Linked DNA regions of Homo sapiens. The protein of the gene in region 2 purifies or fractionates together with the protein of the main gene of each other region. This does not show direct contact. Each region holds a gene or a part of one and is shown on either strand. Other genes may lie near its edges.

What was found. Proteins that work in one complex are often made in the same cells at the same time.
Region 1: the proteins of SEMA7A (region 2) and PIGM purify together in Homo sapiens (affinity purification with mass spectrometry; one large-scale study listed by BioGRID and IntAct). This does not show direct contact.

Annotation. Positions count from the first base shown.
Region 1 is NC_000001.11:160,024,453-160,028,467, reverse strand, and holds the end of PIGM (GPI alpha-1,4-mannosyltransferase I, catalytic subunit), read left to right. Parts: 3' UTR 1-3,515; downstream 3,516-4,015.
Region 2 is NC_000015.10:74,416,959-74,420,458, forward strand, and holds part of SEMA7A (semaphorin-7A isoform 1 preproprotein), read right to left. Parts: exon of another isoform or gene 3,336-3,500; coding exon of another isoform or gene 3,281-3,335; intron 1,995-3,280; coding exon 1,843-1,994; intron 1,352-1,842; coding exon 1,310-1,351; intron 1,012-1,309; coding exon 919-1,011; intron 718-918; coding exon 633-717; intron 488-632; coding exon 377-487; intron 1-376. UniProt on the Homo sapiens protein: Plays an important role in integrin-mediated signaling and functions both in regulating cell migration and immune responses.

The sequences.
Region 1 (4,015 bases), on a different chromosome or scaffold from region 2:
TTTGGGGTAAAAATAGCAGAGTCAGTTGCTGAGGACAATGACCTTCCTTATAACATTTAGTTTCATACCCATATTAGGTCTTGTCTTGAGGACCCTTTATATGTGCTTGTTTACTAGTGGCCTTCCAGCCATAGCATTCTTACCTTTTTTTCCTATTCTAAGAATTAAAAAAAAAAATTATAGAGCCAGCAAGGGAGGAGGCAGGAAACAGAAATCGAATTTCATCATTCCAGTATAGTTGTCCCTTTTTTTGTATTTCTGACTTGGTTTTATAATTATATTTACTTACTAATTATTGTTTTTTAACATTCTTTATTGTGGCTTACTCTTCATACTTAGAATTGAAATTGTTGGACATCACATGTATATTCACATTATAAATACATCATTCTTCCACTGTTAGACCTTTAGATTGCTTCCAGTTTTTAATATTCTAAATAAGACTTTCAACATTTTCTGTGTTTTAGCTCATTCTCTTAGGACATTCTTAGAAGTTAGAAACATTTCTGCTGGGATCGTTGGAGGGAACTTCAAACTTTGGAATCTTTCCTGCAAGAAATTCTTTACCAAAGAAAGGCAGGTGTTTCTTAAAGGGATGCAAAAGATATTTTGCACTTTGTATGTTCCAAAACATTTAGTAAGTTAACTAAAAAAATGAGTTAATTTGGTTTCTTGGGGGATTTTAATTTTTTAATTTGTTTTCTGGTTATGTAAAAAAAATGTTTTTTTTTTGCTTCTTATCACAATCCTTTTGTTTCCTTTTTAATCCTTTAATAACACCTTCAAATTTTATAAGACTTTGGCTTATTTCCTATATAATTCTTTTTTTCTTATACCACCTCTTAAGATTGATATGTTCATTTGCAGGTAAGCATTAATTATTAGATAAAGAGGGATGATTCTCAAGATTGTGTGTGTTCTGAACAGAGGGAACTACATGACATTTTCTTCTGTAATTGCCTTTGTAACGTCTTTAGAATGTGGTTCCTAAATATTCCTGGATAAATTCTCTTGATAGGCCCATTGGAAAGGCTAATACTCCCACCCAGTGCTTTGTTCCTTCCTGGCAAAAGAATTCCTAAAACCACTGATTTTAGTTACTGACTTCTCACCATCTGGACTCTTACAAGATGTTTCAGAAGTTGTGTAGAACTTGTCTTTCAGTTGACTTGTGGCTGAATTTACTGTTACTTCTCTAATATCAGTTGTTTTCTGCATTACCACCCTCTCCCCTAACCATCTGTACTATGAATGGAAAAGGAAAAAGATGGAAAAATTATACCTAGGATTGTCCCTAAATGCAACCTCTTGGTTCCCCCCACCCCTCATGTTTTATTATAAACGATTTTAAGAGCTGGGCATGGTGGTTCATGCCTATAATCCCAATGCTTTGGGAAGCTGAGGCAGGAGGATCACTTGAGGACAGGAGTTTGAGACCAGCCTGGACAACATAGTGAGACCCCCATCTGTACAAAAAAAAAAGTGCTACTTGGGAAGCTGAAGTGGGAGGACCACTTGAGCCCAGGAATTCGAGGAGGTTATAGTGAACTATGATTGTGCCACTGCACTCCAGCCTGGGTGACAGAGCAACACCTTGCCTCTAAAACAAACAGCTCCAACTATTTTATTTTTTTATTTTTCTGAGACAAGATGTTGCTTTGTCACCCAGGCTGGAGTGCAGTAGTATAAACATGGCTCACTGCAGCCGAACTCCCAGGCTCAAGTGATCCTTCCTCCTCAGCCTCCCAAGTAGCTGGGACCACAGGTATTTGCCACCATGCCTGGCTAATCTTTATTTTTTGTAGAGACGAGGTCTTGCTATGTTGCAAGAGGGAGATCACTTAAGTGATCTTCCCTCATTGGCTTCCCAAAGTGTTGGGATTCCAGGCGTGAGCCACTGCACCCCGCCTGACCTAACTATTTTAAACACTACTCATATTGCCATCATCTAAATTCAACAACAATTTGCCATATTTGCTTTATGTATATGTATAATTATATATTTATAAAATTTTTTGAACCATGTGAAGTTGCAAACATCATTGAACTTCACCACTAAATATATCAGCATGCATCTCCTAAAAATCAGGTATTTTCTTACAAAACCATAATTCTGCTATCTATTATGATTTAACATTCTGTCATTTTCAAATTTCTTCAGGTGTTTTTTGTTACATCTTAAAGAACAGACGTTCTTGGATCTCAAAGATTCCGAGGAAGGAAAGAACATGGTGGATAATCCATAATTAAGAAGTTTGAATCTTTTCCTAGTCTTAAAAACAAAGTGAGAACTAAAGGGGTTTACCTTCCATCAAAGTTGAACAAATTAATTCTTTTGTGTGTCATACTTTCTGTCTCTCTCCCTAAAAACATGGGGGTGGTAATCTCTTTGTTTTATCTGGTAGGTTTTCCAGATAAAAGATTATACAGGTTTGGAATCTTAATATCCAACCCCCAACTCCAAGCCCTGCCCCAACAACAACAGCTAATTATTTTACATCTTGATGATGGTAAATTTTTCATGATTAACCAATTTTGGGCACCTATTCCGCCATATATGGTTTTATTTAATTTTCACAGCAACACTTCAAAGTTGATATTCATATTCTAAATTTATAGATGAACGAAGAGGCTCAAAGATTAAACAACTTGCTAATAAGTGATTTTTACCCATGCTTTTTCCATTATATTATGTTTTGGATTTTTCCAGAGTACCCAAACCCAGCAGATGCATACTGCTCCAAAATAAATGGAACTCAATACTGGCTCTGTCAAGTGTCTCTTGCCAATCAATTGTCCTTCTAATCTTTTGAGGGGCAGTTCTCTCAGTTGTACCAAGTCACTGTCATCCCCAAACTTTTCAATGATTCCAGGCCTTTAACAACTCCCCTCCACCTCCAAACCCTCTCTCACCAAATTGTGTAATTTCTTTGTTTACTGCTGGCTTCATCATGCACTTTTCCTTCATAGCCTATTTTAAGAAGTTGATTTGCTGAACTGCTTTTTAGCCAAGCTATTTGTAAATCAAGCTACACAAAGTATGTGGCCATAATTTCCAAAAGGCAAATGATCATTGTTCAATTGCTGTTGCTCTGCAGTGTGCATTCATGCAGTTAAAAATTGTACTGCATTGATAGTACGGCATCAGAGAATAGATCACTTAGGTTCAAATCCCAGTGCATGATCCTGAGCAAGATTATCATATCTAGATACATTAGTTTTTATCTGTGAAATGGGAATGATAGCACAATCTTCATAGAATTGTTGGTAAGGATTAAGTGAGTTGATATGCTCAAAGTGTGCATGCTGGCATAGAACAAGTCACTGTTTACAAGCCTTTAAAGAAGGAGCTGTTCTGGCACTGTAAACTTGAACCTTTTTTCCCCAAATCTAATGGATATAGGCAAGGAAATTATATTTATATAAAATAAATGTTTGACTACCTTTGATCATAAACTTTATTCTCATCTTGACCTGTTCCTTTGAAAAGATAATAAATACTGATATGTGAAAAATGTATGGACAGATTATTCAGATGTCTGGTTGAGGCTTTACAGTTTTGTATATTTCTGTCAGACATTAAGCTGACTCTAAGCAGTGGAGGTTTGGTTTATGCCCCTAAATTACACAGCACTTCTTTTCTCCATTGTATCGAGGGGTCATTCAGGGGTTGCTGTTCTGGAGATGGAAGCACATGTCTCCTGCCTGGGTCAGAAGCGTCACAATAGCACAAGCATTTATTCAGCACTGGCCTAGGAGAACCATTCATTTAGTCAAAACAAGCATTTATATTCATTATCCTGAACAAAAACCAGACTAAATGAGAACATTTATAGCTGCTCAGGCACTCTGCTAATTGCTATGTCTGCTAGACAAAGTGAAATGACACTTACAGTGACTATTTAAAAATAATTTGGAGCATGAATATTTGAAGCTCAGTTCTTTTTACAAAGGAAATGTATAACCTTTGCTCTTCATTTTTTTTGGCAGTTATTTATAGATCCAGGCCCTGTGT
Region 2 (3,500 bases):
GGGACTGGGGGAAGGTCCCTGGGGGCCCCTATGTCACTTCTGCTCAATTGGCAGAGCCCTGATGAGGAGGGAGTTGGGGGCTGCCTCCACGTGAACTCAGCAGAGGATAAACTTTGGCTCCTGGGGACCCTGCACTGGGTCTGGGGCTCCCTCTGTTTGTGTTCCTGAAGAGGGCTGGGCCCATCCCACTGCTATACCTTGTCTGTTCCTCTGCTCCCAGCCAACCCTAACTTCTCAGGCCTATACCAAGGTCCTGCTTTCCTGCATGGCCCCAGCGGCCCTCAGGGAGCCCTCCCAGAAACATCAGGATCCCATCTGCCACCTTAAGTGCTCACACCCCCTTGCCCACCCTCAGCCCAGCCGGAGCCTGACTCACTCTGCATGACAGTATCACTGGTGTACAGCTCACTCTCGCCCCGGATGCGGCGGAACCGAGGGATCTTCCCATTGTATTCCTGCTTCCGGATGGTGGAATACACCTCGTCCCCTGGGGTCAGTGGGAGGGAGAAATGAGTAAGGGCAGGCAGCTCCTGGAAGTCCCTCCTCCGGACACTGGACAAAGAGCTGACCACTCCTCTCCCAGCCCAGTTCAGAAGCATCCCCCTGGGGCGCCTGCTCCAGCACTGCCCTACCTTCAAACAGAACCAGGGAGTTCTCGTCCGGGCTGAAGGGGGCGTAGCCTCTCATCTCGCCAAGTGGCACCACAGTGCCATTCACCTGTGGGAGATCCAGAGGGTTGGATGGCCACATAATCCCACAGCCACTGCCTCCCATGACGGCCAGTTTCTCGGCCAGGAGCCCCATCCTCCCAGGGCAAGGCCAGCATTGGAGTCTCGCCATCTCCTTCCCACCATGAGGGGCAGAAGCCCACGCAGTAGAAGGTGAGCTGATCAGGCACATGGGGAGCAGCCTTCTCACCAGGTTCCAGCAGCTGGGGTGCCGGGCGTTGGTGCCACAGGCCAGCAGCCCCTCACTCCGCCTCTCCAGGAGAGTGATGTAGTTCTCGCAGTCCTGCCCGGGGAAGAGAGAAGGGAGGAGAGAAATTGGTTGCTGGAAGGCCCTGGCAAGCCTAGCACTAGGACCCCCAGGATCAGGGAAGAAGGTGTCAGAAGGGCTTAGCATAGGTGACAGCCTCCCGGGACAGCCCAGAGTGTGTGCAGCTGACGCCATCCCCTAAGCACAGAGGACCACGTCTCCCCATCAGTCTGGGACTCGTGGGGCAGGGCCATGCTTCCTTCCTTAGACCCTCAGGGTCTCCTCTCCCTTTACCAAGTGGCTCAGACCCCTCCATACCCCCTCCCCCACTCACCCGCTTATCCAGACAGGACCCCTTTGTGGAGCCGATATTCACCTGGGGGAAGGGGAGAAGCATTAGTTCAATCTGCCAGGGGTGAGGTACCCCTGAAATGCTTTCCACACAGCCTCAGGATAAGCCCCAAAGGAAGCAACCATTATTCTCATCTGACAGATGAGCAACTGGGGCTCTGAGAGGGTGAGTGATCTACCTGAGGTCAAACAGGGTCTCATATCCAGAGCTGAGGCCCAGAGGGTTCAGAAGACCAGGCATGGGCTCTGGGGCCCAGCTTCCAGCCTGGGCTTTCCGCAGCAGCGCTGCCCAGCTGGCCAGGCCCATTAGCTCCTGTTTTTCTCCACACCGCCCCAGCTCCCCACTCCAATCTGGACTACCTTTAGGGAGCCTCCCCCAGGAGCCATTTATAGGATACGGAGGTGGGGGCAGTTTAGGAAGAGAAGCCAGCTCCCTCGGATTCCCTGAGGACCCTTGGCAGGGCCAGAGGGGAGATAAGAGGGTAGGGGGGGTGTTGGGGGAAGAGAGAGGCTCACCGTGCGCACAGATGCGTTCTTGCCCTCGGGGAAGTCAAAGAGGTAGACCTTGCCACGTCCTCCCACCCACACAGAGGAGCTGCCTGGCTCGTGGAAAAGCACCGTGTGCGGCTCAGTCTGGCCAAAGTCCACCCGGTCCTGCCCTACATGGCCTGAGGAGGAGACAATTAGTAGAAACATTGAAGCCAGGTCCCGAGAGAGAAGACTCTGGGTCCCCTCCACATGGCACACTGGAACCAGTGCTTGGTGCTCAGGGTCCTGGCAGGGCGTCAGACAAGCTCTGGGCTGGGGTGGTACCCAGACTCAGAGAGTCAAGGACAGGAGAAGTAAGAGATCCTCCGGTGGGCTCCAGCAACCAGCTGTCCTCACCCACAGCACGGCCCCTCCCCTAGTGTGGCAGCCTCTCCTTCCTTCACAGTATGTGTGATCTCAGAGTGGGGAAGGATTTAGGGACCTCTTGGGGGAACAGACCCCCTCCTCTGGCACACACTTTTGAGGGCTGGGCTAAGGCAGGAGGACCAGGGCTCCTTGGCCATGCTCTGGGAGGTTCTCTGCTGCCCTAAGCCAAAGCAAGCAGCGCCCCCCAACCCCGGGCCTTTCAGCAGGCAGCAGGGCCTTCAAGCACCCCCCTTGGAGTCCAGGTTCCCAGGAATCACAATGCTCAGAACCCCTTCTCCTCCTTCAGGAATCCCTCTCCAACCTCTCCTGGCCCATCCCCAGCCCCTTAGTGAGCACTAGACTAGAGGAGGAAAGGAATCTCAACATCTACTCCGTCCCATTTCACAGATGGGAAAACAGAGGCCAAGGGAGGGGCAGCCCAAGGGCACACGGAAGCAGGTCAGTAGCAGACCCTGAACCAGAGCCTGCACTCCTGCCTACCAAGCTGGACTCTATTCCATGGCCCACTCTGGCCTGGTTTCACCCATGAGGATGCTAGCTCTCCGGGGGGTGAAGATCGGCTCTTCCTCCCCAGCAACTCTGGGACAGGGGAACCTTCACAGAGCACAGCCTGGGACTTTCAGCAGAAGGGCTGACCGGGAAAATTTTCCCCAAAAAAGAAACTGACTGCAGCCACTGCCTCTGGGGAGGTGTCTCATCTCCAGTGACACTGCTGAGGTTGTCCTGGTTGCAGGAGTAAATTATAGGGATGGGATGGCCTGTGGTTGTGCCCCCAGCAATCAGCCACACCCAGCATCTTCCCACCTCTGACCAGCCTGGGCCTCACCTAGGAACTGGGTCTGACCACTGTTTTTTCAGCTGCAGGAAACTCTGGGGCAGCCAGCTTGGCAGTGACACCCAAGCTCCAGCTCTGACCAAAAAGAACTACCATTTCCTCAACTCTGCCCCCGATCCCTCTTATTCCCATTGGAGCCATCCCTATTGATTCTGCATTTAACAGGGGCAAGGAGCAGCTGGACCACACACTGTGCCACCACACCTTCATTCTTTAAGAAACATCCCTTCATGGCCAGGTCACCCCCGGAAGTGAGCATTCTTCACCTCTTCTGTGGCCTGGCGCACTGTGCAGAGAAGAATGCTGAGGTACCCTGGGAGACATGCCAAGGTCACACCAGCAGGCAGGACACATTAGCTTGTCCCAGGCTGCAGTATCAGTTCTCAGCAGCATGGCAGGCTACAGAGAGAAGTGCTGAGCTCAC